3 separate regions of the Homo sapiens genome follow, and all the other regions are linked to region 1. Evidence: fine-mapped expression QTL. A gene starts in region 1. Each other region holds a variant in brackets. All regions are shown on one strand. Distances are between the middles of the regions. Region 1 holds the start of CREB1 (cAMP responsive element binding protein 1). Region 2 has its middle 78 kb from the start of CREB1. Region 3 has its middle 25 kb from the start of CREB1.

Region 1 (10,806 bases):
GGGTCATTCACATTTTTTTAGCCATTATAAATAGAGGGATACTGAGGATTTCAATTAATTCCTCACCCAGAAGTATTTATTTATTGCTATCTATTATATTAAGACTATAGGAAATCTTACCAAATAAGAAAGAAACCCATAATATATCCCCCTCCTTGCTTTAAGGCACTAATCCCATTCACAAGGGGTTTACCTCCCAAGTAGAGAAGTTGAAAATGTTAGGACATTTGAGAGGAAAGACAATCTGTTTTATTCATAATTTCCCCAGTCTCTAGAAGAATGCCTGGCACAAAGGAGGTGCTCCACAGATATTTTTAGAATAAATGAAATAGGTCACCATGGTCTTGGGGTTAGGTAGGAAAGCAAATCACAGGAGGTGATGAACTAGGGCAGGCAGGGTTCATGGAACTTGAGCTCACAGTGAGGGTGAAAATTATATTCGACAGCAGAAATGAGCAAAAAATAACAGGAAGAGGAAGTTGTGATTATAGAAAAGCTCTCAAATACTACTTTCTCTTTGAAGCCTTTTATAATCATCTTATGGGACCTTCCCCCTATTCTGGACCTCTTTCAAGATACTTTTCTTATACTCTATCAAGTTACATCCATGTGTGCTCCTCTTTCATCTCCCTGATATTGACCACATTTTGCAATTGGAAAACTGAGTCAAAAATGGGGGATCACCTGTAGTCCCAGCTACTCAGGAGGCTGAGGGCAAGAGAGTCACTTGAGCCCAGGGGTGTGGGGCTGTCACATGCGATGACCGCTCCTGTGTACAGCCACTGCACTTCAGCCTGAGCAACACAGCGAGAGACTGATCCTGGAAAAAATTTCTTTTAAAATGCAGGTGGCTTCCAAATCCCAGAGACAAAACTTGGATGCTGAAAGGAGAAATGTCAGATAGTGAGATTGAAAATGCTAGAGTATATCCGAAGAGAGAATATCCAAGAGAGAAATGTCAAAGTAGAGAGGCTGAAAATCTAGAGTATACCCAAAATGTTAGTAGTAAAATAACTTGCATTGGAATGAATGGATGATTGAATAAATGAATGAACAAAGTTAGGTGGGAACGGAGGTCATTTGAGCAGAAGTCAAGAAGAATATATGTTTTAATAATTGTTTGAGGCCCACTGGTCTGACAGTAAGGGCCCAAATGAATAGGGAAAGCTAGCCTCCAGTTAGAAGACACCTAGGAAGTTAGCAAAATAATCAATGATAATAGAGTCTAAATGAAGGTTAGTGTATATAAAAAGGAAGAATGAATATGAGGACATTTTTAAATAAAAACTCACCATATTTGGTGGGTGATAATTATAGGTTATGAGTAAATAATTCCAAAGTTTTTTGATATCATGTATAGAGCCACGGTAAGAAGAGCAGGAAGATGAACTCAATTTTGAAAACGTATTTGACACGAGGATAAGCTATCCAAGTAAAAGCTAGTAATAGGCAACATTTTTCCTAACATTGTTCCAAGTATACTTCACATGTATTATGTCACGTAATCATTACAATAACACTATGAGGTGCTATTATCATCTTTATTTTACAGATGGGAAAACTGAGGCACAAGAGTGAACAATTTGCCCAAAGTCATTAGCTAATAAGTGGCTGAGCCAGTGCAATGAATTCACCCCCACCCCTGTCTCCTGCAAATTCGTATTTTTGAAATCTTCACCCTCAATGTGATGGTATTAGGAGATGAGGCCTTTGGGAGGTAAACCCCTTGTGAATGGGATTAGTGCCTTATAAAAGCAACCCGAGAGCTCTTGCTCTCTTTCTGCATTGTGAGGTAAAGGGAAAAAACAGCCATCTACAACCCTGAAGAGGGCCTTCACCAGAACCTGACCATGTTGGCAGCCTGATTTCAGATATCCAGCCTCCAGAGCTATGAGAAATACATTTCTGTTGTTTATAAGCCACCAGTCTATATGGTACTTTACTACGGCAACCTGAACTCACTGAGAGCCAGGATTTGAATTCAAATGTTGAGAAAACTTTGCCCGGGACCACTCAGAAATTCACTATTTATTCGATAAATACCTAACAAGTACCACTATATTCTAGACATTGTGCTGTTGCTAGGGAGAGGAAAAGCTGGTAGTGAACAAGACAGACGTGGTCCTTACCTGCACAATTACATGGACACTAAACAAATAATGAGAAGTAGGAATTGGAAAAGAAAGTGATAAGTTACAGTTAAGTAGGAGGAATGGGTGACAGAAAAAAATTCCAGGGGAAGGGAAGGGCATGTGTAAATGCCCTGAAGTGAGAGCCTACAGTAGGGAATAAAAAGAGGAGAGCCTGGAAAAAATTAAAATACTATGGCAGGAGTGCAGGCAGCTAGGGGGACAGATGGAGAGGCTGGAGAGAAAGACAAGTACAGATAATGGAGCTTAGACAATGTGTGGTAAGCAAAGGGAGACCACTGGAGGAATTTAAGCAGGTCAATGATCAGATTTATATTTAAAAAATTACTCTGGCAGCAGTATGGCAAATGTATTGGAACGAGGCAAGAGCAGTTTTGGAGGACCTGAATGGGTTACTGTGGGACTTCAAGCAAGAGGCAACAGTGGTTTAGACTAGAATGGGAATGAAAAAATGGTCATGGGAACAGAGAGAGGTCACAAATCCAATTTTCCAGGGAGCAGACAGATGTAGGTGATTCTGCTGTGTGTTGGAGGTGTGCTAGGTTTCTGGCATGAACTGGGTAGATGTTAAGATACCCTTTACTGAACCAGGGACTATGGGAGGAGCGTTTTGAAGGAATTATGATATACGGGTTGAGTTTGAAATGCCCTAAGTCATCCAAATGAAAGTGTACCAAAGGCAGTATGCTGGGAACTATGAATGTAGGATTCCAGAGCAAGATCTAGGCTTGAGTTATGGATTGAAGAGTCTTTGACAGAGGGTATTTGATGCTGCTGGGAGAGCATAAGACCACCTAGGAAAGTGTATGGGGAGACTCAGTAAGAGGGCCAGGGTTCAGCTCAGCATGATTCCAATGTGTAAGAGGTAGATCAAGGAGGAGCTGGTTGTTAAAGAGCAAACTCAGGTAGGGAGGAAACCTGGGACATAAGACCAGAGGGAAGAGGGTATTTGGAAGCAACTGTGGTCAATCGCGTCAAATACTGGGATGAGGGCTTGTAAAATGAGGACTGAAAATGATCCGCTGCATTTACAGTCATGAAGCTTGTCTGTGGACAATTCAGAGCCACTTCAGGTGAGCGGTGGGGACACTGGAGAGGGCTGGGAGGTGGGACATGAAAGACTGTCCATGGGGTAAGAGACAGCTGCAGTTGTTGGAGAGCAATTTAGGGAGAAGAGAAATCTTTTTAAAGAATTGAAAGACTTAAGCATGTTTAAATACCAGTAAGAAAGAGCCGGTAGAGAAGGAAAGGTTGAGAGTAACAGAAGGAAAGGAGACTCGTTAAGGGCAAAGTCCATAAGAAAACAGTAGGGTACCTGGAGTACCAGGAAGGACAACTCTTTCTTTACAAGAGAAGTGAGTCATGGGCGGAGTCCAGAATCGAACCCTCTCTGCTTCCTAAAGACACGTCTCCTTTAAAGGACAGAAAAAGAATGATTAAGACTTGAGGCCGGGCGCGGTGGCTCATACGTGTAACCCCACCACTTTAGGAGGCCGAGGCGGGTGGATTACCTGAGGTCAGGAGTTCCATACCAGCCTGGCCAACATGGTGAAACCCCGTCTCTACTAACAACACAAAAATTAGCCAGGTGTGGTGGCAGGTGCCTGTAATCCCAGCTACTAGGGAGGCTGAGGCAGGAGAATCGCTCGAAACCGGGAGGCGGAGGTTGCAGTGAGCCGAGATCGTGCCACTGCACTCCAGCCTGGGCGACAAGGGCTAGACTCCGTCTCATTAAAAAAAAAAAAAAAAAAAAAAAGACTTGAAACCCCAAGGAGAGGGCTGCAGAGTTCACTATCAAGGAGAATGGGGACCTAGTGGTGCCGTCCTGAGAGACCTCTGAAAGAACAATTCAGTAGTTTCCAGCCACGGAAGTCCCCCTGCTGGGTTTAGGGTGCAGTGGGTGCGAATCCCTGCTGTAGAAAACAGGCTGAGGAAAGAAAGCGACACAGGATGTTGTCTGGAGAAAGGCGGGGAGGTAGGATGGGGCATATTTCCAGGGGTCCGGGCAGGTTGTGTGGCTTGGAGGCCTCCGAGGGCCGTCGACGTCAGCCATGGTCCGGGCAGAGCCCCGCAAGGTGCCACAGTATCGGGGCCAGCGCCCCCCGGAAAAGCATGCTCCGCTGGCGGCCGCCAGGTTTCTCCGCGGAGTCTCGGAAAGGAAAACCCGTCCCCACGGGGGTCCCACGACGCCCCCGGGTCCCAGGCCCCGGGACGTTGGCAGAGGCGCAGCAGACCTTCTTCCCCAGCCCGCACGGCTCCAGCGGTCCGGCCGCGTCCCAGCCCGGGCTGCCCGTCCCCCGTCTCCCGGCGGCGTCGGAAAGTTCCCGGGGCTGGCGGCGGTCAAGAGCAGAGCCAGGGCAGCCGCAGCCGCCTTCTAGCCCGCCGCTCACCGCCGCAGGGGCAGGCCTGAGCGGGGGTTTCCACCAAGTCGCCGACACCCCTCGGGAATTCCCCCACTGGGCCACACACAAACCCCGCTTCCTCCTTCAAATTTCCGCTGCCGGCTTTACCGATGCGAAAGCCGCGGTGGAGTTTAGACCACTCCTCCCGGCGCCGGGCTCAGCCCGCCTTCGCCTTCCCTCTCCCCGCGGAACCCCTTCTCGTCGCCCGAAGAAACCCGAAGGTCTTCGGCAAGTTCCGTCCCCAGCGCGGGGGCGGGGCCGCTCGAGCTGCTCCGGGCCTAGCTCGGCTGTTTCCGTGCGCGGCCGCTGCGCACTCGGCACTGGGCGGCGCTGGCTGGCTCCCTGGCTGCGGCTCCTCAGTCGGCGGCGGCTGCTGCTGCCTGTGGCCCGGGCGGCTGGGAGAAGCGGAGTGTTGGTGAGTGACGCGGCGGAGGTGTAGTTTGACGCGGTGTGTTACGTGGGGGAGAGAATAAAACTCCAGCGAGATCCGGGCCGTGAACGAAAGCAGTGACGGAGGAGCTTGTACCACCGGTAAGAGGAGCAGGAGGAGGAGGCAGGAGCCAGAGAGAGCCGGGGGGACGGAGGGGGGACGGGGAGGCGCCGGACACCCGCGCTTGGGGCCTTCCCCTCGCAGGAGGGGCCGCGGTAAAGATGGAGCCTCCGCCCGAGCCCCACAACATCGCCGCCGCTCGCAGCGAACAAAGAATAATGGCGGCGGACTGGAGCCAGCGGCGGCCGGGGCGGCAGCGACTCTGCCTGCAGCCAGCGGCGGCGCTCATGGCGGGGGGCGGCGGGCGGCGGGCGGCGGGCGGGGTGGGAGCCGGCGGCCGGGGGTGTGTGCGGGCGGCCGGCCGCGGCGAGCTGGCGCCCGCGTTCCCGCCGCCGCCGCCGGGCCGGGCGCGGAGCCGGGAACCCGGAGCCGCCCCGGGGGAGGCCGCCCGCTCGGCCCGGCGCTGCCCCCCGCGCCGCTCGCTCGTCCGGCCCCCGCCGCCCGCCTCGCCCCCGGCCCGACCCGGCCGGGCCTCCGGGGCAGCCGCCGCCTAGGTGCCGGTGGGGGATGGAGGAGGAAGAAGGCGACAGTTGAGGGCAGAGGAGGTGAAGGTGCCTGCTGCCTTCCCGGTGGCTTCGGTGCCTGCCATGCCCGCTTCGCAAGGGGAAGAGCTGCAACGTCTGACCTACTCTTCTCTCCACTCTTTGTGCAATAAAGTTCGAAACCCAAGGTTTCCTCTCGTGCTGTATTTTATTCGTGCCCTTTCCCCCCCGCTCCTACACCGTTGAGGAAATGCTGCTTTCTGCCCTGTGTTGCTTAGTTGAGAGATGAGAGCTTGTGCTTTTGGGGGGAATTTTTGACTCCCTCACCCCTTTGCTTTTTTTTTTTTTTTAAAGTCAGTCATGGAAATGCATGCTTTTTGGGAGAAAGGGTGCTAAGAAAAACATTTATAATAACTTTTTAAACTGTTGGGATCTTATAAAAGGGAAGCTGGTGTTTGAAAACAGTTTCGGTTTTAACCCTTTTTAATAAGGTAATCATCACTTGAGATCTATCATTCTGAAACACTTCGTTGGAACGAGTATCAGCCGATGTACTCTTGTTTTACATCATTTCGCGGGGTGCAACCTTGCCAACCGCGTTTGGGTCATCTGGATCTCCCCTCACCCTCCGTCCCACTCCCCCTACCATATTTCCCACGAATTTCTGTGTGAACTTTAATGAGAGATTGATTTAATACTACTACTAAAAATAGACATTAAAGTATCCATTATTTGTCTCATGCAGTAGGTAACCCCCGTCTTGAGATTGACAATTTAAGCCACAAGCTGTATTTTTTCTTCGCCTGTTGGGAAAAGAGGACAGCAGAAAAGTCATTGACACATTAAAAATTAAAAGACAGTTTTTGAAGGACGTGCGGTATGACCTATTTAAGTTTGTAATACCATCTCAAGTTATAATTCTAACCTCAGCTGGCGTCTAACTTCTGAAGGTTTAGTAGAAGATACTTTTGATTGCTGCCTATTGAAATCTTTTACATTTATGGCTCATTTCGTGATTTAAAAGTAAAGCCCCGAACAGTTATTTTAGGTGGTGCAAAAGACGAACAAGTTTGTTTTAAAAATACTTGTCTGTCACTGTATGATTGCATTGTGATTGATACGTACAAACCTTCTGGTTAAGAACAAATATTGATTGGCAGCAGAAGCACTGTCTTATTTTTCTGTATTCTAGTCACTTTTCCAAAACGTGCTTTGCTGTATTGCTTCTCTTTAAAAGACCACATTGGCAATTTGTCATTTCCAAGAAAATTAAGAAGAGGCAATAAAGGCAGGTTTTCTATAAAGATTGGGGAAATGATTTTATTTCCGAGCACTGAAAAAATTATAGTATTGATAATGGTAGCTTACCATTTTTCCTTTATGTTGTTCCGCAAGCCACTATCAGTAGAGTAGAATTTTTTTTCTTGTTAAGAATATAAGTCGGGCGCGGTGGCTGAGGCCTGTAATCCCAGCACTTGGGGGGTCGAGGCGGGCGGATCACTTGAGGTCAGGAGTGCAAGACCAGCCTGGCCAACATGATGAAACCCCATCTCTACTAAAAATACAAAAATTAGCCGGGTGTGGTGGCACGCGCCTGTAATCCCAGCTACTCGGGGGGCTGGGGTTGCAGTGAATTGAGATCGTGCCATGCACTTCAGCCTGGGCGACACAGCAAGACTCCGTCTCAAAGAAAAAAAAAAAAAAGAAAGAATATATGACTCTTCATTTGTGAGATTTTTAAAAAATTGTTCACTGATGGCCGAGTGCGGTGGCTCACATCTGTAATCCCAGCACTTTGGGAAGCCGAGGCAGGCGGCTCACGAGGTCAAGAGATCGAGACCATCCTGGCTAACATGGTGAAACCCCGTCTCTACTAAAAATACAAAAATTAGCTGGGTGTCGTGGCGCGTGCTTGTAATCCCAGCTACTAGGGTAGCTGAGGCAGGAGAATCTCTTGAGCCCAGGAGGTGGAGATTGCAGTGAGCCGAGATCGCGCCACTGCCCTCCAGCCTGGTGACAGCGAGACCCCATCTCAAAAAAAAAAAAGTTTACTGATAAGTTCTTTCTTTAGTCTTGCCCGAGAGATATTTTAAATTGTATTTTTTATTTTTATTTTTATTTATTTGTTTTTTTGAGACGGAGTTTGGCCCTTATTGCCCAGGCTGGAGTGCAGTGGGCTGGTCTCGGCTCACTCACTGCAAGCTCCGCCTCCCGGGTTCAAGCAATTCTCCTGCCCCAGCCCCCCGAGTAGCTGGGATTACAGGTGTGAGCCACCGCGCCCGGCCTGTTTTATTATTTATACATTCATAATTTGTGATTCTTAGCAATTCCAGGTGAAACTTCAAACTTGTATTCATTAATACTTGAACATTCACCTGGAACATGTTACTAAATTGTACTTCTGCACTGTTCCAGCCATGGATAAAAATTACAGCTGGATCTGCTTGAATCTTTTTTTTTTTTTCATGAACACCTACATTTAGAAAGCTAATAAATTACTTGACAGAGTTTGCTTGAAGAATGTTAAAAGAACACTTCTTTGGGAATTTAAAACTTAAGTGTTACCTGTTTTGAATGATTTTTTTTTTGTTTACATAAAGAGCCTGAAGAAACTTAGACACCTGATCCATAAAAATGGCACCTTTTTCTACTTTCTGAAACTCATATTCTTGATTAGGTCTCATTATTAGAAATTTTGGGTTCTTCATAGAGAAGTAGCTTTATTTCTCTCTCATTCTAAGACATTTGGTTTTGTTTGTTTGGATACAGTATGGTTATGGGGTTATAGTAAAACCAAGTATGTCTTCCTCACGTGTTTTTAAATTCTACTTTTTATAACAGAAAATTATTTTTAACCTAATGCTTACAATATATTACCGAAATTTATAATTTCATTTATTCCATAAATAGCTTATCAGATATGAGTTACATAAACTTGTTTACAGCCAGCTTGTGACATAGTTTTGCAAATATCTTGATATATGGTGTAACTTTGATGGCTTCTTTATTGAATAGAGCTCAAATCTAAATTTAAGAATGTAATGAGATGTCAAGATGGAAAAATGCAGGATTTTTTTTTTTCTTACCCATGTGTAAACTCATCTGTACTGCAGTATCACTTGAGACAGCAGTTTATGGTAATTCAAATATTTATTTGGCACTCACTGTGACAGAGAATGTAGTTGAAAGAGCATGAGGTTTGGAATCATAGGCCTAGGTCTGAATCCAAGCATTGCCACTGCTATCCTGTACCCACCCTAAAGGAATTTTGTGTCCTGAAGGAAGTTTCTTAATCTTTCTCAGCCTCAGTTTCCTTATATGTAAAATTAGAATACTACTACTTATTTCATAAGATTGCGAGATAAACATAAAGTACCTTAGGGCTACAACTAATGATAGCTAGTCCCTTAAGCTTTATTTTAACTTCCTACCTGTGGGCCCTTAGGCAAGTTATCTTAACTTCTTAATACCTCACTTTCCTTTCTGATCAGTGTAGAACAACTACCTCAGAATTGTGGGGGTTAACTATAAAGTAATACATACTAAGTCCCAGGCATTGTGCAAGTGTCAAGTGCTCAAGTGTTGACAAGGCTTTTTTCTTTTGTTTTAATTTTTTTTTGAGACGGAGTCTTGCTCTGTTGCCCAGGATGGTGTGCAGTGATGCAGTCTCAGCTCACGGCAACCTCTGCTTCCTGGATTCAAGTGATTCTCCTGCCTCAGCCTCCCTAGTAGCTGGAACTACAGGCATGCACCACCACGCCCGGCTAATTTTTGTGTTTTTAGTAGAGACAGGGTTTCACCATGTTGGTCAGGCTGGTCTTGAATGCCTGGGATTATAGGCGTGAGCCACCACGCCCAGCTGGTCTGTTACTTTTTAAATTATTTATTATTACTATATGTAATACAGTGGGTCAGAAGCTACAACAAATCCAAAGATGAATTACGCTGTCTTATCTCTACCCTCAGGAACTGTTGGGGACACAGTGACTAAGGCAAAATATGTGTCAAAAGAAAGCAGTCAAAGGAAAAAGGGATCACCTTTGGTGAAGTGAGGAGTATATTTTTTATATTTCTAATTTGGTTTTTTGAATAAGTAATTCATTCACATGATCTATAATTCAAAACATAATAACAGCAAAATGCCCTACATTCTCTTGCCCTATTACCTAAGTGTTAGCAATTTTTTATTTGTCCTTTAAGAGGTGTTTTATGCAAACACGAGCAAATATGTATGTACAGTCTCCCCCTTTTTGTACAAATGGTAGCATACTAGGTATACGCTCTCCTATATCATGCTTTACCCCCACCACTTAATATGGCTTAGCAATTTTGTATCAGCACATAAAGAGCTTCTTCATTTTTTAACATACAATTGGAAGCATTTTATTATGTAAGTAGACTGTATTAACCAGTTAGTGAGCTGCTTTTATTCTTAGGTCTTATATTACCTTTTAAACTAAGGGAAACTGCCATCTTGCCTTTATTTCTTTAAATGAAAAACTTTCTATTTGAATGAAAAATAAATAGTTTGTGACAGGAAATTGTTATTTAAAGTCCCTCATTTCCTGTTTAACTCCAGTTTTTAAAAGTTTTAGTAAAATGATCAAAATGTACATGAGGAGGCAAGCAAGCCAGGTTAAGAGTTAACTCACAAGGTGAATTTAACTCTTTTGTTGAGGTTCTTACAGTTCTGAACAGACTACTTCTTTCAATTATTATTTTGGCCCAAAAGGTTTTTATAGCTTTCTTTCTTAATGAGAAAGAACATTTCATATAGTCCGGTGTTTTTTTGGGTTTTTTTTAACAGACAGCTCATGGGATATTATTACCCAGTAAGGCTGATTACTATACTAGATTTCTCCCTGCATTCATTTATTTTTTACATACTTGTTAACTTACCTTGACGATTTTCTAGTATTTCTTAATGTAATTATGTGAGTTTTATATTTTGTACCTAAATTTAAAAATAGTGAGATTCACCTATATGATTGCTGAGATGATAAACTTTACTGCATAGATGATTTTTTTACCCCCGTGGGGAAACCTTTGGTCAACCAGTTGGACCAAGTAATACGTATTTCAGCCAAAGCACAAAATGCGTTTCACTACCTTTTTTTTTTCCTCTAGCTTTTCGAAACAGCATTGAGCTACAATACTTTTTTATTTATTTATTTATTTATTTATTTTTATTTATTTATTTTTTTGAGGCAAGGTTTGGCTCT
Region 2 (10,806 bases), 79 kb before region 1:
AAGTATATATTAAATATACGTTAATATACTAATTAAAGTATAAACATAATTTATGTTTATATTTTAAACTAGAAACTTACTATTTTAAACTATAAATAATTTTAAACTATAAAAATATAAATATATTAAGATAATTAAACACATATATTTAAATGATGGCATTCTGATTTATACATTGGTGTCAACTGGATTTGGTAATATAACCCAATAACCAAAAGAATGATCATGTTTTAGACTACTTAAAACATCCAGTTTTCTGACTTTCAAATGGTGGCTCAAATGAGGTCATCCTCTGAATGACTGAGTCATCAGACCCATACAACATTCTCATCACAGTCCCCCTCCCCAGAAAATCAGTATCAAAGAAGAATATTGGAAGATAATTTTTACAGATGCTAACTGATACAACATAAGCACATAAGCTTTCCAAGAGTGCCTATCAAGACAGAAGAGCCAGTAGCCCAGGACCTTGTGAGAGCACACTGGTGATTACTAAGCAGGTCTGAACAAAGAGTAATGCAGAATAAGCCATCCTGTAAGAGGTGCAACTTACCTCACTACCTCTCTTGGAATCTTGACTGTAATTGTTAAGGAGTTCCATTAGGCATCTCAAACAATTCCTGGAGATGTTCTTTATCAATGGATATTATACAGGTAACTAAAGACTCCCACACTATGGTATGGGAACCAAACCTATGTACATATATGTATATAGGAGACAGCCAAGCATAAAGGGGTCACTGGAGAACCTCCAACCAGCCTGCGCACTGGGAGAAGCGCACACTGGGGTGGAGCCTCGGGAAGTTCCTGCTGTTTGCAGTGGGGAGGAGCCTGGCCTCTCCTGTTCTGGGGTCGTACCTGGAAATCAATCTGTGAGGCGGGAAGCCTGCTAGCAAAACTCTCACTTTGCTGAGAGTCCCTGTTTCCCGTTTTTTCCTTTTCACCCAGTAAACCCTGCCCTTCTCACCCTTCAAAGCATCTATGAGCCTAATCTTTCAAGGTTGTGTGAAAAGAACCCAGCTTTTAGCTGAACCAAGGGGAAAGTCCTACAATATATATATACATGCATGTATGTATTATATGTGTGTGTGCGTTTAAATAGGATCTGTGTGGGTATGGGGTTGATTTACAATCCCCTGTGACTTGGTTGCAGCCCATGTCGTCTGTGTGGATAATGGGTCTGCATCAGAACCCTAAACCCTGCTCCTTTTGTAGTTACAGCATCTTGGTTTTCAAGCTGCCATTATTTTTTATTATCATTAGACACCACATCCTACTTTTCTTTCTTTATCACAGCTCAACTTCTGGAATGGGTATTCCCCGTCCACTGCTTCATCATCTCACATCAGAATTGTTGAAATTGTACTTTTATTACTGTACTACTTTCTTCTCTTTTTTTTCTTTCTCTGTACTTTTTTGTTTACTGCTATTTATTATTATATTACTTTTCTCACTCTTCTAGAAGTTGTGCACTCTCTGTAAGCTCTTAAATCACCAGTCTAGGAAGAGAACTAGGAGGTCAAAGAGGAAAGAGGAGCCACTTGCCAAATTCCAATTGCAGGTGGACACCATGAATATATCACAGAACAGGTCAACTGCCCAGGACTTTCAGAAAAGCTTGGTTTTCATTAGATTCTCCTCCAACTCTTTCATAATCTAGGCTTCCTGCCCTGTGTTAATTATATTTCTGACCCAAAACCAACAAACTAAGAGGCTGCATGTTGTGATGGAAAGTGTGTTGGACCAGATGCCAAAAACTGTGACTTTTAGGGCCAACTCTGAAGCTAGCCAGCTGTGTGACCTTGAACAAGTCATTTCTCCTCCAGACCCGTTGTTCCCTCACTGCTTCAATGAACAGTTAATAAGATTTTGTCCATGATTTCTTCCAGGTCAAAATTATGTCATTCTTTCACCCTAATTCCCTTTCTTCTTACTGGTAATATATCATATATAATAACATAGTTTACAATTCTTATGAGCCAGGTTAAGAGTTATTACTACTTCTTACTAAACATAAATTACTACTCATGAATTACTTAACACCAAAAATGAACACTTAACATGCAATTACAAAAAAAAAATTTTGTTAGCTTTATTTGAGGTATGATTCAGCACATGAGGTATTTAACACACCACTGTCAAAGCAAACCTTAGTTTTAAAACCCAGCAAATAAAAACTGGATCTGAGAAACTGGACCTAAGATTGGCTGGGGTCCATCATCTTTATGAGGGTAGACGGACTTAGAATACACCATTTATCTAAGAATTGGGCAGATAATCTGGAGCAAGAGGGCAGGGGGTGGTAAATTGGTGGGAAAATTAAAGATACATTTTCTCCAGCTGTTTGATTTTTCATGCTGTTGAGTTTTAAGGTTACAGTATGTAACCAGAATATGAAACATCACTGGGAGGAAGGGAACTCATTTAATATTATGTTAGTTGTAGAATTATAACTAGGTGTAAAGCAAAGAAAGTAGTTATCTATTATTCATTCCTTCTGAACAGACATTTCCTGTCTGTGAATACAAAGCATGACTAGAATTTACTTGCTGAAACTCAGAGATGCTATAAGAGAACATTTCATTTTCATTTGATCTGACCTTGTGTATGATAATGGAGCTTCTCTAAAACACTGATGCTTGTCTGTTCTCCTTATATTATGCCCCTGAGAATTATTCCTATTCCTGACCTCATAGATGGGGAAATTAACCTCAGAGAGTTTTTGAGACTTGTCCAAGGTCATCGCCAGGTTCAATCTCTTTAGGCAGTCCTGAACAGGTGTGGCCACAAAAATCAGTGAAGTTAGTTATCTGCGTATCTATATGTGACTTCCTATATTATACGAAGTATTTCTCTCACTGATAACTGAGCACATCCAATCTAGCATGTCAGATTCACCAGAAATTAACATGCATTCTGTTCATTCCAAATATCCCTAGCTGCTTAGTGAACCTGTGAATGAATTAAAGATGGCTTCTCAGCATGATGACAGAAAAAAAATTTCTAGCTAGAGACATTGTACCAGACATAGATGCGCTGGACATAGATGTACTAGATATAATTGAGCCTCATGCTCAACTGCTAAATCAAGTATCCTGCCTCCTGACCAAGGCCTTGAGTTGAACCAAAGCATAAAACCCAAACTATAAAGAACTCAATAAACTGAGATAAGACCTTCTTGGTTTTCTCCTGTATTTGGTTTTTCAAATTTAATTATGAGCTAAATCAACTTCAAAATTCAGACCGTTTTGACCTAGAATCTAATCTACTATTTTCTAAAAATTATTAAGTCAGAATATAATCCCATTGAATTGATATGTCATCCAGTTCAAGCCCTCCAAAAATTGATACATTGATACATAGGTAAGTAGGTGGAGGAATGGAGAGATGAAATGGACGAATTCCCCTGCCAGGACTGCAGTTATTTGCTCCAACCTCTAAAACTACCTAATACACCTCTTCACCTAAATACCCCCTTGCTAAAATCCTGACTGATTAAAAAGCGAAGTTAACAAATTTTCTCTGATGAGTTTTTTATCATGTTCATAGAAAGAGAAGTCTGATATAAAGTAGTAACACAAGAATAAACAAACCTATAATTTGGAGTAGCAGCTCCAGGGACAATAATAAGGTTTTCCAATCTCCCAGATCATAATTAACAGTGTAAAGAATTAAAGAGAAGTTCAGGAAGGAGTGCTTAAACCTTTTTGTAAATTTAAAAACAAGTAATGATCTCCATTGCTGTTCTCCAGGTTTATTCAAATTTGGACAATTAGGACAATTAAACATAAAATAGAGACAGCTCTAAAGAGGGAGCTACAACAAAGCAGAATAATTGCTGGGACTGGCTATCAAATTTACATAAAAAAAGATTAAAAAGCTGATTTACATTTAAAAAACAAGATCAGGCAATATCTAAAATAGATAACACAACCTACTGAGAAAAGCTCTTTTCATCAATAAAGGAGAAGCAAAGGTGATTATATATAACAAAACTAATCTTCTATATTGCTTTAATCACCTAAAACCACTTTAACTGTTTATTTGGGAACCATTTTGTGGGGGAAAAAAATATTGCATGTAAAAGCACGTAATTTCTAGGTTGCAGTAAAACACAGACACCATCAAGATCATGCTATATTCTCAGCTCATTACCTGCTCTCTTCTCTAGATCCTGTCTTCTCTTGGTTATCAAAAATTCTCACCACTTACAAATTCATTCATTCTAGAACTTGAAAATTTGCCATGTAATTGATATAACAGATGCTTCCAGAACAGATGTTCTGCTTATTGTTACTGCATCTCATGAACAAAGTAGATTATAAAGCTTTTTCCTTCCTGGACTAAGCACTTACATGGCATTTTGAGCTTTTTTCAAAAACGAAAAAGAACATAATTACCTGCATTTTAATATGTACTGTAGGATAGAGGAAAAAAAATCTCTTTGTCTCTTTATCCATCTTAGGTTCTCCAGGTGGGACTCTATAAATTAGGCTAACAAAAGACAGATTAACAAGAGAAAAGTATACACATTTATTTAATGGAAGTTTTACATGACACAGGAGCCTTCATCAGAAAATGAAGACCCAAAGAAACGATTAAGCTGAAGTGTTTTTATACCAGGTTTGATAAAGAGTGAAAAGTCATGCAAAAACATGACAGGACAAAAGGGTATGAACTAAGGTTCTGAAAGAAACTTAGCAAGGCCTGTTCATTCTGATTCCTCATAGTGTGTCCTGTCCAATAAATCCAAAAACACTTACTGGCTTTGGTTCTGAATCTCTTGGTAGATACTTCCAGTTTAAAAGAAAGAAAAATAAGAAGAAAAAAGGCCAGGCATATTTGTTATTTGCCTTTGCTGAAATTATAAGATATTTGAAATAATTTTTTTTTTAAGAGCTCTATGGTCAGAAGTTAGCTTAATAGGAAGCTGATATTCAGGCTACAATTTTTGTTAAGTCCCCTCTGTTGTTCTGTCTGTTGGATCCTGCTTCTATCACAGGAACGTCTCAGTCTACTGAAACCTCTCTTACTGAACCCCTGCTAACCATATGGTCAGTCCCTCTGTCCACATTTTTTTTTCTTGTTGGCATGATTTTCGCTGAGGATAATGTGGAAATTCATGTACCTTTTTGGGAAACTTGAGACCTCCCCAAACTAGCTCCTGTAAGACTTCTTTCCATTTGCTTCTGTTCCTCCTTCCTCCCTTTGGCACTTACAATCTGCCATCCAGTTCTCTCGAATCCTTGATTTATTCTCCTTCAAATCCTTACCTCCTCCATTTAGTGGTCAGTGGATGAAAAATTACTAACAGGAAACACCAAAGGTAAGAAAAATTTCAGTCTCTATAGTCAAACTTTAGGTGGGCTTCTGGACCTTCTCCTAGGACTATCCATGTACATCCTTGTAGAATCCTGTAGTGAATTCCTATAATTTTATGTCGCCTCAGAATCCTTTTGAGTCCTCCTCTATGTGTCACCTAACTGACACACCTCAAACTCCTTCTTGGAAAAACTTGCATTCTTTCTCTGTGCCTTTGAGATATAAATTTTCTACCCTTTCTTCTCTAGAATTTGATCATTACCATTTGGAAATACTGTTGTCCTTTGATATCCACAGGAGATTGGTTCTAGTACCTCCCACAAATACCAAAATCTATGGATGCTCAAGTCCCTGATATAAAATAAGATAGTAGTTTCATATAACCTATGCACATCTTCCCATATTCTTAAAATCATCTCTAGATTACTTATAATACCTAATATAATGTAAATGCTATGTAAGTAGTTGTTATACTATATTGTTTAGGGAAAAATGACAAGAAAAATGTCTGTCCATGTTCAGTAGAGATGCGTGCTCTTTAAAACAATATTTTCAATTCCTGATTGGTTGAATCCACAGAAGCAGAATCCATAGATACAGAAGAGATGACTGTCAGGGAGATGACTGTCATCAAAAAGAAAAAAACTGAACTGTTTAGAAATTGGTCAAATAAAAAATCTTAAAAGCCTTTTCCACAAAAAAACTAGTAAAAAAGCTTTAGCCAGGCCAACTGTGGTGGCTCACACCTGTAATCCCAGCACTTTGGGAGGCCAGGGCGGGCCAATCATGAGGTCAGGAGAT[C/A]GAGACCATCCTGGCTAACACAGTGAAACCCCGTCTCTACTAAAAATACAAAAAATTGGCCGGGCGTGGTGGCACACGCCTGTAGACCGAGCTACTAGGGAGGCTGAGGCAGGAGAATCGCTTGAACCTGGGAGGCGGAGGTTGCAGTGAGCCGAGATTGCACCACTGCACTCCAGCCTGGGTGACAGAGCTAGACGCCAACTCAAAAAAAAAAAAAAAAAGCTTTAGCCATCTGAGCAGATAATCTTAACTTGTATCATTTATCAGGTCTAGCTAGTGAGTCTTGAATTATCAGACTTGGTGCAAGGCTAAAAGTGTTAGAGTAAAAGATGTAAGATCTGCTTCTATCTGTATGTTTATGTCATTAAATATAATACAGACATATATTTTTGCCTGCGTTTGCTGGCCAGACAGGTGTATTGTCTCTGCTAGATGGTTAAGGTCATAAAATTATAAACGCAACCTTCAAACAGAATACACAGTAAAAATGAATTCCTGAATTGCTTGATGCACATCAGTCACGGAGAAAAAAAAGAGGAAAGAACCATGTTTAACTTTCTTGTTTCTTTGCTTCTATGATATTTTGCTTGCCTGATTTGTCAACAACAAAAACAACTTGAGACAGAGGTTAGCTTTGTTTGATGTCTCATAAAATTGTCATGAACAGTTCACATAAAATTGTTAAGAATGAGTGAGTTACTGGCTGGGCGTGGTGGCTCACGCCTGTAATCCCAGCACTTTGGGAGGCCGAGGCTAGCGGATCACAAGGGCAGGAGATCGAGACCATCCTGGCTAACATGGTGAAACCCCGTCTCTACTAAAAATACAAAAAATTAGCTGGGCATGGTGGTGGGCACCTGTAGTCCCAGCTATGCGGGAGGCTGAGGCAGGAGAATGATGTGAACCCGGGAGGCAGAGGTTGCAGGGAGCCAAGATTGCACCACTGCACTCCAGCCTGGATGACAGAGCAAGATTCCGTCTCAAAAAAAAAAAATCAAAAAATAAAATAAAAGCACTTAGTTATTTTAAAAAAAAAAAAAAGAATGAGTGAGTTACCAAATGAACTAAATAAGGTGAACTACATAAGGTGCTGGGACCAATCCTGGAGAAACAGATATGTGACCTTTCCGACACAGCATTCAAAATAGCTGCTTTGAGGAAACTCAAAGAAATTCAAGATAACACAGAGAATGAATTCATAATTCTATCAGATAAACTTAACAAAGAGATTGACATAATTTAAAAGAACCAAGCAGAAATTCTAGAGTTGAAAAATGCAATTGACATACTGAAGAAAGCATCAGAGTATCTTACCAACAGAAATGATCAAATAAAAGAAAGAATTAGTAAGCTTGAAGACAGCCTACACGAAAATGCACAGAGGAGACAAAAGACAAAAATAATAAAAAAGAATGAAGCATGCCTACAAGATCTAGAAAATAGCCTCAAAAGGGCAAATCTAAGAGTAACACGCCACAAGCACACACAACCAAAGCAAAAATGGACAAATGGGACCACATCAACTTAAATAGCTTCTGCACAGCAAAGAAAACACTCAACAAAGTGAAGAAACAGCCAACAAAATGGGATAAAATATTTGCAAACTACCCATCTGACAATGGATTGATAACTAGGATATATAAGGAGCTCAAACAGCTATATAGGCAAAAATTTAACAATCCAATTAAGAAATGGGCAAGGCTGGGCATGGTGGCTCACATCTGTAATCACAGCACTTTGGGAGGCCAAGGCAGGTGGATCGCTTGAGCCCAGGAGTGTGAGACCAGCCTGGGCAACAAAGTGAGACCTAGTCTCTAAAAAAAAATAAAAAAAGAATAGCCAAGCATGGGGGCACACTCCTGTGGTCCCAGTTACACGGAAGGCTGAGACAGAAGGATCACTTGAGTCTGGGAGGTCAAGACTATAGTGAGCTGTGTTTGTGCCACTACACACCAGCCTGGGTGACAGAGTGAGACCCTGTCTCAAAAACTAAATGAATACGTATTTTTAATTGGCCAAAAAAAAAAATTTTTTTTTTGAGATGTAGTTTCGTTCTTGTTGCCCAGGCTGGAGTGCAATGGCACCATTTCAACTCACTGCAACCTCCACCTCCTGGGTTCAAGAGGTTCTCCTGCCTCAGCCTCCCAAGTAGCTGGGATTACAGGCATGTGCCACCATGCCTGGCTAATTTTGTATTTTCAGTAGAGACAGGGCTTCCCACATTGGTCAGGCTGGTCTCAAACTCCCGACCTCAGGTGATCCGCCCGCCTTGACCTCCCAAAGTGCTGGAATTACAGGGGTGAGCCACTGCGCCTGGCCGGGAAAAAAAATTTGAATGGACATTTCCCAGAAGAAGACATACAAATGGCAAACAGGCATATGAAAATGGCTCAACATCATGGATCATCAGGAATATGCAAATCAAAATTACAATTAGATGTCATCTCACTCCAGTTAAAGTGGCTTTTATCCAAAAGACAGGCAACAACAAATGCTGGAGAGGATTTGGGGAAAAGGGAGCCCTTGTATGCTGTTGGTGGGAATATAAATTAGTACAACCACTATGGAAAACAGTTTGGAGGTTTCTCACAAAAGTAAAAATAAAGCTACCATACAATCAGGCAATCCCACTGCTAGGTATATACCCAAAAGGAAGGAAATCAGGATATGTAAGAGATATCTGGGCCGGGCGCGGTGGCTCACGCCTGTAATCCTAGCACTTCGGGAGGCCGAGACGGGCGGATCACGAGGTCAGGAGATCGAGACCATCTTGGCTAACACGGTGAAACCCCGTTTCTACTAAAAATACAAAAAATTAGCCAGGCGTGTTGGCGGGCGCCTGTAGTCCCAGCTACTTGGGAGGCTGAGGCAGGAGAATGGCATGAACCTGGGAGGCGGAGCTTGCAGTGAGCCGAGATCGCGCCACTGCACTCCAACCTGGGAGACACAGCGAGACTCCATCTCAAAAAAAAAAAAAAAGAGATATCTGCACTCCCATGTTTATTGCAGCACTGTTCACAATAGCTAAGATTTGGAAGCAACCTAAGTGTCCCTCAACAGATGAATGGATAAAGAAAATGTAGTACATTTACATGATAGAGTACTATTCAGCCATAAAAAAGAATGAAATCCCGTTATCTGCAACAACATGGATGGAATTGGGACTCATTGTATTAAGTGAAATAAGCCAGGCACAGAAAGACAAACTCATGTTCTCGCTTATTTGTGGGAGCTAAAAATTAAAATGATTGGCCAGGTGTGGTGGCTCACGCCTGTAATCTCAGCACTTTGGGAGGCTGAGGCAGGTGGATCACAAGGTCAGGAGATCGAGACCATCCTGGTTAACACGGTGAAACCCCGTCTGTACTAAAAATGCAAAAAATTAGCTGGGCGTGGTGGCAGGCACCTGTAGTCCCAGCTACTCCGGAGGCTGAGGCAGGAGAATGGTGTGAACCCAGGAGGCGGAGGTTGCAGTGAGCCGAGATTGTGCCACTGCACTCCAGCCTGGGCAACAGAGCGAGAGTCTGTCCCCAAAAAAAAAAAAAAAAAAATTAAAACGATTGTTGAACTCATGGAGATAGAGAGTACAAGGATGATTACCAGAGGTTGGGAAGGGGGCTTGTAGGGAAGTGGGAAGAGTTAATGGGTACAAAAAAAGTTAGAAAAAATTAGTAAGACCTAGTATTTGATAACAGGGTGACTGTAGTCAATAATAATTTAATTGTACATTTTTAAATAACTAAAAGCATAATTGGATTGTAACATAAAGGATAAATGCTTCAGGGGAAAGCTATCCCATTTTACATGATGTAATTATTATGGATTGCATGCCTATATCAAAGTATCTAATGTATCCCATAAATATAGACACCTACATACCCACAAAAATTAAAACTTGAAACTTAAAAAAAAGAATGAGTGAATTAGATGAATATAAGTAGGATAATAGTTTATAAGCAAAGTTTTTCAATAACAATTATGTTTTAGAAAATATGTCTAGTTAAAAATAGTTTTAAAATCTTTTTGGTAACTTGAAACCTTAAAATGAAATTAAGTAATAGATACTTATTAAATATCTGGGTCACTTCTAAGTAAGTTAAAAATATTGAAACACTAATTACTAGGCACAAGTTTATGTACTTTGGCATCTTGTTTTTATATAGTACAGAGAAGCTAAATAGATTGAAGTTGGTTAAAAACATGAAAAATTGCTTCTAGAAATTATGAAATGATGAATGCTGTTATAAAAGAGTTTATAATGCTTGCTAGTTTTCACTAGAAATTAAGGTTACTGGCCAGGCATGGTGGCTCACGCCTGTAATCCCAGCACTTGGGGAGGCCAAGGCCGGCTGATCACGAGGTCAGGAGTTTGAGACCAGCCTAGCCAACATACTAAAACCCCGTCTCTACTAAAAATACAAAAATTAACCGGGCATGGTGGCGCGTGCCTGTAGTCCTAGCTACTTGGGAGGCTGAGGCAGGAGAATCACTTGAACCTGGGAGGCGGAGGTTGCAGCGAGCTGAGATCACGCCACTGCACACCAGCCCAGGCGACAGTGCAAGACTCAGTCTCAAAAAAAAAAAAAAAAAAAAGAAAAAAAGAAATAAGGTTACTAAGAGTTAAACGTTATAATTAACATATGTAATTAAACTGCCAGAAAATATGAGGGAAAACTTTCTTTG
Region 3 (10,806 bases), 25 kb before region 1:
GCCTCCCAAGTAGCTGAGACCACAGGTGCACACCACCATGCCCAGCTAAGTTTTAAATAATTTCTAGAGACAAGAGCTTGCTATGTTGCCTAGGCTGGTCTTGAACTCCTGGACTCAAGTGATCCTTCCACCTCGGCCTCCCAAAATGCTGGGATTATAGGAATTAGCCACCTCACCCAGCCAAAGTCTTGAAATGGGATAAAACAGGAGTCCTCAGTCCTGGTATTGACCCCCTCACCAAAGTCACGCCCCTTTCGATGTTTATAGCAACTTGATAAAAACCAGGGCTGTGAATTAAATGTCCATTAACAAAAGAATAGGCTCACTTTTATAACAAAATACTATGCAGCTATGAACTATGTATACTACATATTTATAAACACTAAGTGGAAATTATGTTCCTTCTTATATTGTTTAGTTAGAGGAGTGAGTATTGACAGAAAAATGCTTCCCTCTTTGATCCCCCAGGTTGACAGTTCTGAGATGCATTGCACAAGGCCCCCCAGGAGGTCCCAGCAAAATCTAGCACCAGTTACTCACGGCACTGTCCAGCTCAGTAATGAACCTTTCTATTAGCCGCCCCTCTTTCCCTGCTTCCCCCACTCCCCGCCCTGATCCCTGCCCCTACGCCCTGCAGTCACCTCCCCAAGTCAGTGCATACAAGCTTTTGTCTCAGAATTTGCTTTTGAGAGAAGCCACATTAAGAAAGACATTGCTGGCCAGGCCTGGTGGCTCATGCCTGTAATCCCAGCACTTTGGGAGGATCACTTTAACTCAGGAGTTCAAGACCAGCCTGGGCAACATAGCAAGACCTTGTCTCTACTAAAAAAATGTTTTTAATTACCTGGGCATGGTGGTGTGCACTTATAGTCCCAGCAACTAGGGAGGCCAAGACAGGAAGATCACTTGATCCAGGAAGCTGAGGCTGCAGTGAACTGTGATTGCATCACTGCACTCCAGCCTGAACAACAGAGCGAGACCCTGTCTCAGAAAACAAAACAAAAAAAGAAAAAAAGAAAGACATTGTCAAGTGAGGACATGGTGTTTAGAGCTGCCTTATCCATGTGGCAACCAGGGGGCAAGACCTAGAGAGCTTCAGAGAAGCTGACCCAGAATGCAGGCACAACTGAGCCACATAATGACCAACTACCTCTAGATATCTTGTTCTGTGAAAAGAATAAGCCCCTATTGTTTAAGTCACTCTTAATTGGGTTTTCTGTTACTTGCAGCAAAGGTACTTTTTTTTTTTCTTTGAGATGGAGTTTCACTCTTGTTGCCCAGGCTGGAGTGCAATGGCACGATCTCAGCTTACCACAACCTTCGCGCCCTGGATTCAAGCAATTCTCCTGCCTCAGCCTCCTGAGTATCTGGGATTACAGGCATGTGCCACCACGTCCAGCTAATTTTTTATATTTTTAGTAGAGATGGGGTTTCACCATGTTAGCCAGGATGGTCTCGATCTCCCGACCTCAGGTGATCTGCCGCCCGCCTCGGCCTCCCAAAGTGCTGGGATTACAGGCATGAGCCACTGCACCCAGCCCATGATACATGAGGCCAATTGAAGACCTCCTTGGGAATATTTTATGTAGAAAAGAAGGCAGAGGAACAAGCTCTCCGTATGGGGAAGCCTGAGGGTGTCAGCTAGGCAGCTCCTGGTGACCACAGTTCTAGCTTGTGGACAGTGCTGATCTGACAGAAGCAGAGAAAAAAAGAGAGAGAGAGTCCTGTGATTTAAATTCTTCTGGCAGTGAATTCCTCTTTTTGCCTAAGATATTTCACACAGCATTTCTATCACTTGCAAACAAGAGTCCTGCCTAATTTAAGTAAGAGCCATTCTTGTTTTGTTTTGTTTTGTTTTAAAAAAAAAAGTGGGGAAAAAAGTGGGTGCATGAGTGTGAATGTGTCTTCATCTAAGCATAGAAAAAATCGGAATGGATACACTTAACAGTTGACAGTAGTTATTTCTGGGGAGAGTCAGAATAGAGGGGAGTAAGGAGGACATATGTATCATTTGTACTTTGTAAACTTCTCAATGTTTAAACTTGTTATAATGAGCTTGTATCATTTTGCAATTTTAAAAGTCTAAAAACTACAGAAACTCTGAGATAATAAATGTGTGTTATTTGATGCTGTTAAGTTTGAGGTATACAGCAACGGAAAATACACATAGGGAATCACTGAAAACTTGACAACCACTGCTTGCAAACCACCCAACAAACCTCAGATAGACAACCACAGGTCCCAATGCCCACATAAAACCAGTAACAATTTGCTGAGTGAAGGACTGATGCTGGGAAGTTGTATCCAACTGGCCTGTGACCACGGCCCCACGTGCACAGATAATTTCCCCTAAAATCCAACCCAAGTAAGCCTATGACGTAAATTTAAAAACAAAACCTAAACCAGCAATCTTGCTCTGCAACTGCAGCTTCAAAACAAGCTTATCCACTTGCCCCTTTCCAACCCAATACATTTCTAGAGAGAAAAATCTAGAGTTGCCACAGGTCAATGAGTCTGTATAAAAAGCCTAAATGCTAAAGGAAGCAGGAAATATGGGGTACCATTCTACGCACACAAGCTGATGGGATGGAACCAGGACCAGAGAGAATGGGGTTATGGGAAATGGATACAGAGGCTGGCTCAGCCATGAGCCACTTGGTAGATAGGTCAAAGCACATAATCATAAGGACATGACAATCTCAGGGTGGAGATGACGTTGGCAAGTGGAGTGCAAACAGCTAAAAGGAAAGCAGGTGACAGTTCTGAGTGGTGCTAGCAGAACCCGAAATGAAAGGTGGAGTGTGCCAGGAACAGCAAGAGAGGGGACTGGCAAAATCCTGTGTGGGGCTAGAGAATTGGGAGGCAGCATCCATTTACAGGGAAGACCCAGATTCTGGGCAGGGATACTGAGGCAAAAATTCAGGCTTATGAATAGTAAAAGCTACATGGCATACTTACTACATGTCTACATGCCAAGTGCTTTAAACTATATTTCACTGAATTCTGCCAAAAACCCCATGAGGAGGGAACTTTTATCATCTCCATTTTTCAGATGAAGAAACTAAGGCAGACAGAATATATGTGTTTTGCTCACAGTCACATAGCTCATATATCAGTCAGCTCCAGATGCCATAACAGAATACACAGACCGGGTGGCTTAAACAACAGAAATAGATTTTCTTGACATTCTGGAGGTTCAAAATCTAAGATCGAGGTGCTGGCAGGGTTAGTTCCTGGCGAGGCCTCTATTCTCAGCTTGCAGATGGCCACCTTCTTCTATGTCCTCACATGGCCTCTTCTCTGTGCACTCGTGGAAAGAGATCACTGGTTTCTCTTCCTCTTCTTACAAAAACACCAGCCCTGTCAGATTAGGGTCCCACCCTTAGGAACCCCATTTAACTGTAATTACCTCCTTAAAGGCCCTATCTTTAAATATAGTCATATTGTGGGCTGAGGCTTCAACAACACATGAATTTGAGGAAGACACAGTCCAGTTCATAATAGCTCATAAGGAGCAAACATAGACAGTGTGACTCCAGAGCCTGATGCTTTTCGTGTGTGTTAATACATATTTTATCAAGGTATAATTTAAATATTATAGCTCACTTAGTTTTGAATAAATGCTTATGTCCATGGGACCCACATGTCTATCAAGAACGATACAGTTCTCTCAGCCACCACACCCTACCAGACCTCGTGATGACAGAAGGTGCTGCCACTGGTAGATTTCACAGCAGGCAGTAGTCATCCCTAGAACTGTGGACACAAGGTCCACCCCCAGCCAAGACTCGATTCTGAGCTCCCTCCCTCCCATGCACACACTGCATGGGGCTTCCTGCCTGGGCCAGTCCTCACGCTCTGCTGCTGTTCTCTGGGTCCCAGGAGACTGACCACTGCAAGCTGTATTTCCCAGGATATTTTTCCTCCTCCCTCTCTGCCTTGGGCAGTATCTCAGCATCTCTTCTCTGGCTCCAGCTCCCAACAGATGACCCTAGTGCCTCCTCTTCGGTTTAAAAAAAAAAAAATACGACCTCCTCCCTGTTGACCTCCAGTTTAGAAGTGGTACTGGTTTTCTGCTATCACAATTCTTTGGATTATCTCACCATCCATTGTTTGGCTTCTCAGCTCTTTTGTCTCCTGTATAACCAGTTCCCTGCATATTCCCTCTGTTTCAAATGCTCAGCAGGGTTTCTCTTTTCTGGATTATACTTTTCTGGTATACTGACATATTCCCTATTTGTCATAACTGGCTCAGTAACTGGGATGAGTCTAGATATATAGATGGAGCCCAGGCACAGAGGCTGAAAGCTAGAGGACTCATAAGCAGAGGTTTCTCCAAGAGAATACCAGGAATTGTATTACATTTGTTCTCCACTTATTGACAACTTATTGGTCCATCTTGTTATCAAATTTGCACTTGTTTGATTTATTCACTGTCTATGGCTCACCTATTTTTCAGGTAGACCTCTAACTGACATCAAGACAAAACATGCCTTTATCACCAGCTTCTTCAGCTGTTGTCATAACTGTAAGCTACTATTGGATTCGTCACACTGCAAATACCTCATGTTCTCACTTATAAGTGGAAGCTAAATGATGAGAACACACGGACACACAGAGGGGAATAACACACACTGGGGCCTATTGGAGGGTGGAGGGTGGGAGGAGGGAGAGGATCAGGAAAAATACCTAATAGGATTAATACCTGGGTGATGAAATGAGACAAGTTTACTTGTGTAACAAACCTGCAGCTTACCTACGTAACCTATTACCCCTGAACTTAAAAGTTTAAAAAAAAATGTGCTTGCTAATATGAAATGGTTGGGGAGAAAAGAGGGACTAAGGAAGACAGGATGGGACACTAACACCGAGGAGCCTTCAACA[G/A]CCTGTGGATATTCCTGGGGATCCTATCAGCCAGCTGGGGGTGGAGGAGGAGCCACAGGCAGAGCCTTTCAAGAGGCAAATGCCCGTCCAGCTCTGGCCCCAGTTTTCCTTACGGCAGCCTCTGCTTAACTATAAAATCTATACTGAGTAGATTACCATGACTACCGCAGAAAGACCTCCACCTCTAGTTTGGCTGCAAAACTAAGTCTTTTCTTCCAAGAGCCTTTGGCTTTAGGAGGGAGCACCAGGAGGCAGACTGCAGCCACTGGCTCACTGCCCTACATGCCAGGGCCTTCTGCAGAACCGCAATAGTTACAAGTCAAGCTTCCTTTCCTCAGCCCATACCACCAAAGCAATGGGCTGTTGGCGTGCCCTGACAGCAGGAGGAGAAGCCCCACTGTCAGGGGGTAAAAAGAAACGACACAGTTCCCACTTCTTCACTCTACGTGATAAATCACTTCAGCTGGGAGAACTGTCATGAAACGACCTGGCAGCTAATGAGAGAAATGGAACCCAAAAAAAGAAAGAAAGGAAGAAAGAATCCTGTTAGTCACAGAGCTTTTCATCTGAACCGCAGAACAGGCTCGTGCTTTTTGCTTTCTGTGGGAATAATAAAATCACAGTCCTGTAACTATATTAGCTCCTCAAACAAAAGTAACTCCCTAGAATAAAATTATGAGGGGTTTCTGAGTTGGATTTAGTTTTCACTGGGTAAAGGCATAAATTAAAAGGAGGAACCGGGTACCCTTAAGAAAGTCAATGAAGTAACTAAGCTTGCTATTCAAACCAGGAAAACACAGGCTGTGAGGCAGCTTCACTCTGCAGTCTATTCAACACCTGGCGAACAAAACAACACTGACTCTGCCCAAGCCGGGATTTTCCCACAGTGGACCAGCAATTTCAGAGGCCCCTAGAATGCCAGGACTGTGTCTTAGACCTTGGAAAATAGGATGAAAAGGACAGGCTCAAAGGGATATTTAGTTCCAAAGGAAAATCACAAAAGCTAAAAGTTATTATAAGAGAAAGGCCCTAAAGCACATTACTGGAGATAAAATTTTAAGGGTAAATAAATACCCTTTGTGGAAAAGTGTTTAGGAAAAAACACAAAGAGAGCATGAATACCATATTATAGGTACAATATGTTCTATCCAAAATAAAAAGTAGGTTCAGAATCACATCAGCCTAATCATGCCTCCTAAGCAGCAGGCTATGTGAGGTAGAGAAATGTGGGCTCAGTACCTCTATCCCACATTCTTCATCCTCCCCTGCTCCACCACACCCACCTCCTGCCTTTCAGAACCGCCTTCCTCCAAAGACACCCAGGAACCTCAGAAAGAATGCTTCTCTAAATTATTCATACCACAGTGCTACTTCCTGTCCTTTCCTTCCAAGAAATATTTGCTATGTTAAAACCCAGTGAAAGTGAGCAATGCTTGAAACAAATAGTGAATCACTCCTGGTAATATTTCAGGCACTGGTAAAAATTTCATTGGATGGGGGAGGGAAAGAGGAGTCTCTTTCTCATACTCTAAATTATACCACATATAAAAACAGACTATAAACATGACCTCTTTTATGTGGAAATTCACATTGCATAGGTAGAACATTATTTTTTTAAATGCTGACTTTCAAAAGTTGACATCAACTTTCAATCAAAATACTCATGTATTTAAAGAAGACCAGCAGAAAAATATTTATGAACTTATTTTCAACTTGTCCCCATTTTTGAACTTTTTTATCAGTGAAGAAATGGAAACATTTTTTCAATAACCAACAAACCTTTCTAAAACCCTGTTTGATCTTGCCACACTTCTATTAGTAAACCAAAATATTTTGGAAGTGTTTTATCCAAATTACACTTTGGTCCTGATAGGGATAAAATCCAATAAATGATAGGTCTATGTCCACATGACAATTATATGAGGTTCCTACTGTAATACTGGCATTCTCATTTCTGACTGTGGCAGTCTGTTGCAGAGATAGCTATAATAATCCCTCCCCACTGCATGCTCTTTTTTGCTGTGACTTTGCCACTCCTCCCATCAATAGATGAAGTCTGCTTCCTCTCCTCTTGAATCTGGGCTGGTTTCATTATTTGTTTCGACCAAGAGATTCTAGCAGAAAGGACTCAGTTTAATTGCTAGGCTTAGGCTTTCTAAAGAAGCTTTAGAACCTCTATCTTGCCCCCTTGGAGCTCCAAGCCTCCATGTAAGAAAGTCCAGGGTATACTGCTGTACTGCTAGAGAGTCACCTAGAAGAACACCGAGGTGCCCCAGTTGACAGCCAGTTCCAGACATGTGAGGAAGGCCATATTGGATCCTTCTATCCAGTCAAGGCCAGCCACCACATGAAGAGCAGAGGCCAGACTTCTCCACTGAGTCCTGCTCAAATTGCAGATCCACAGAATCATAAGCAAATGACTGCTTTAAGCTACTTTGTTTGAGGTGGTTTGTTACATAGCAGTAAGATAACGAAAACACAGACCTTATACAAAAATGACTAAATTGTGTAAAGCTACCCAGAACAGACATCTCAAAGACCAGATACCTGATCTAAGAAAGCACAGTCTGTCTCGCCGGGCATGGTGGCTCATGCCTGTACTCCCAGCATGAGCTCCACTGAGTCCTGCTCAAATTGCAGATCCACAGTCATAAGCAAATGACTGTTTTAAGCTACTTTGCTTTGAGGTGGTTTGTTACATAGCAGTAAGATAACGAAAACAGACCTTATACAAAACTGACTAAATTGCATAAAGCTACCCAGAACAGACATCTCAAAGACCAGATACCTGATCTAAGAAAGCACAGTCTGTCTTGCCGTGCGCGGTGGCTCATGTCTGTACTCCCGGCACTTTGGGAAGCCGAGGCGGTGGATCACGAGGTCACCAGTTCGAGACCAGCCTGGCCAACATGGTGAAACCCCATCTCTACTTAAAAAAAATAATAATAATACAAAAATTAGCCGAGTATGGTGGCGGGTGCCTGTAATCCCAGCTACTCGAGAGGCTGAGACATGACAGTCGCTTGAACCCAGGGGACGGAGGTTGCAATGAGCCAAGATTGCACCACTGCACTCCAGCCTGGGCAGCAAGAGTGAAACTCCATCTAAAAAATAAAAAAAGAAAAAAAAAGAAAGCATAGTCTGTCTCAGTACAAAAAATGTAAATGATCAAAGTCCATATCATGGTCCAAATCAGAGAGTGTTCCCTCAATATCCATGCTTGCTTTTTTTTTTTTTTCCTTTCTTTCATTTTTTTTTTAACAGGGTCTTACTCTGTCACCTGAGGGTCTTACTCTGTCACTGGAGTGTGGCAGTGCAATCAAGCCTTACTGCAGCCTCAGCCTCCTGAGCTCAGGTGATCTTCCTGCCTCAGCCTCCTGAGTAGCTGGGACCACAGACGCATGATAATTTTTTAAAATTATTATTTGTAGAGATGGGGGTCTTGCTATGTTGCCTAGGCTGGTCTCAAACTCCTGGGCTCAAGTCATCCTCCTACCTCAGCCTCCCAAAGTGCCGGGATTACAGGTGTGAGCCACTGTATCTGGCCATGCTCCCTTTTTACAGCAATGGGTCTCAAAATGTGGTCCTGGACCAGCATTATCAGCATCACATAGATACTTGTCAGAAATGCAAATTCTTATTCTCCTACTGAATGAAAAACTGGGGATGAGGGCCAGTCATCTGTATTTCAACAAGTCTTGCCGGTGATTCCGATGCACGCCATAGCGTGAGAACCAGTATAGCAATAAAACCTCTGATGTTTAGCTGGTAAACATGGCCACCTGGACAAAGAGACTAGGTAAGGTGGCTGCATAAGGCCCCTTGACTAAGTTCTGTCAAAACAGAAACAACAAAAAGTAAAATAAAAAGTTCTGTCAAAACAGCAAAAAGTAAACAGAAATGTGAAAAGGGGAGTTATCTTCTCTGACTCCTCCTGCTTCATGATGGCTGGAATTCAGATGTGATAGCTGGATCCCCAGAAATAGTCTTAGACAAGAGATGATGCTGAGAAATTAATCCACGCACAGCAGAGCAACAAAGTGGAAGGGGTATGGGACCCTGGCACTGTGGAGCTGCCATATTAGCTCTGAACTGACTCCCTGATTTCCTGAACAGAAAATTTCTACCTTGTTTAAGCCTGTTATTCTGTTTTCTATCTCTATAATATCCTAATGCATGATCTTAATAAAGTTAGTCCCCTTTCCCCTCACCTACTAAGATGTTCTTTAATATAAGAATATTTTCTTTATTGTCACAAGTTATCTTGCAGATTATTTCTTTAGTTGTTTGACTCTCTTCCTATTGGTCTGGAAGCTCTATGAAAGCAGTTACATTTTCTTTATTATTGAATCCCCAGCATCTAATACACACTATCCTCACAATATTTACTGAATGGAAGATGGAAGGATGGATGTAGGCAAACCAAATTTTGTCCGTTTTTGGCACTGATAAATTGACTATGCTTCAAAATAAATCTTTTAAATACTAAATTTTCAACAAAACTATCCCCTGCCCATATCCTAGCTTTGTTCCACATTTAATCTGAATATGAAGCAATAATATCAGTAACAAACACTTTTAGAAGCTTTAAAATGTGCCAAAGACAAATTCCAATACAGGAGCAACCTACAATATACCTGACCAGTCCTCCTCAAACTGTCAAGGTCATCAGAAATAGGAAAGTCTGAGAAACTGACACAGCCAAGGGAGCCTAAGGAGACATGACAACTAAATATAACACAGTATCCTGGGATGGATTCTGGAACAGAAAAGGACACTAGGCAAAAACTAAGAAACTCTCAATAAACTATGGACTTTAGTTCAAAACAATACTCTATCAATATTGCTTCATTAATTATAACAAATGTACCATACTAATGTCAGATGTCAGCAATAGAGGAAACTTTGGGTAGGGTGGGGTGGGGAGGTTACATGGGAACTCTCTATATTATCTGCTTGCTTTTTCTGCAAGTCCAAAACTTTCCTTAGGGCTGGGTGCGGTGGCTCACACCTGTAATCCCAGCACTTTGGGAGGCCAGGGTGGGTGGATCACTGGAGGTCAGGAGTTCAAGACCAGCCTGGGCAACATGGTGAAAGCCTGTCTCTACTAAAAATACAAAAATTAGCCAGGCGTGGTGGCAGGTGCCTATAATCCCAGCTACTCAGGAGGCTAAGGCAGGAGAATCACTTGAACCTGGGAGGTGGAGATTGCAGTGAGCTGAGATCTTGCCACTGCTCCAGCCGGGATGACAGAGTGAGACTCCATCTCAAAAAAAAGAAAAAAAAAACTTTCCTTAAAAATAAAGTCTATTAATAAAAGACGTGTGCCAAAGACTGTTACATATATCAACTCATATTGCCTGTATTAATTCTCATAGAGACTGAGATAGATAACTATGATGAGCCCTATTTTACAAATCCAAAATGTACATTAAGTTATGTTCCCTAAAGTCCTTTAGGCTTATGCTATATGTTTCTTCTGGATCAAAATCTATTTGATTCAATTATTTAACATAATGTGTATTGCTTATTGTGTGCCAGTAAGGGACTGAGTTTAGGCAATTCTATGAGCAGAGTTAAAATTGGGAGAGCAAGGAGGCTTTGTATCAGCCCACTAAAATTTAAAGGGCACAAGCAAACATTTTCAAGAATTTTCTGTTCTGAAATGTGTTATATTTACATGTTGACAACACATATATTTCTCTAACAGGTAGAAACAACTAAGCTTGATATCTAATTATCAAGAAAAATTACTTAAATATGAAGCCACCAGATGGCACAAAGTGTTAAGAACACATAAATCATACATCATATGTTACAAAGCTGATTTAAGAGTGGGTTTGTGTCTTGTACTTATAGTGAAGGCTCTATCTCCGAATATATCCCTGGTAAAAGAACATCTCAAATGAGAAAAATCTCTAA

What was found. PIP is the estimated chance that this variant, and not a neighbour inherited with it, causes the effect. A credible set is the group of variants that fine-mapping cannot tell apart.
Region 2: its variant is the best candidate, but not a certain one, in a credible set for the expression of CREB1 in whole blood (INTERVAL, PIP 0.81).
Region 3: its variant is the best candidate, but not a certain one, in a credible set for the expression of CREB1 in whole blood (INTERVAL, PIP 0.89).

What each region holds. Positions count from the first base shown.
Region 1 is chr2:207,525,052-207,535,857 of GRCh38, forward strand. It overlaps CREB1 (cAMP responsive element binding protein 1), which reads left to right and starts at 4,911. Exons shown (of 8, transcript NM_004379.5): 1 at 4,911-5,083. LOC124907970 (a long non-coding RNA gene) reads right to left here and starts at 4,546. Exons shown (of 3, transcript XR_007088060.1): 1 at 4,385-4,546; 2 at 3,466-3,562; 3 at 1-881. RefSeq lists silencers at 4,280-4,459, 5,130-5,259, 5,290-5,339, 6,050-6,219 and enhancers at 4,480-4,679, 4,940-5,039, 6,628-7,129, 7,130-7,629.
Region 2 is chr2:207,446,069-207,456,874 of GRCh38, forward strand. No RefSeq gene overlaps it. Among named protein-coding and RNA genes, the nearest start is that of CREB1, 78 kb to the right of the region's middle. The variant C/A (reference allele first, on the strand shown) is at 6,124.
Region 3 is chr2:207,499,686-207,510,491 of GRCh38, forward strand. No RefSeq gene overlaps it. Among named protein-coding and RNA genes, the nearest start is that of CREB1, 25 kb to the right of the region's middle. RefSeq lists an enhancer at 3,854-3,913. The variant G/A (reference allele first, on the strand shown) is at 4,885.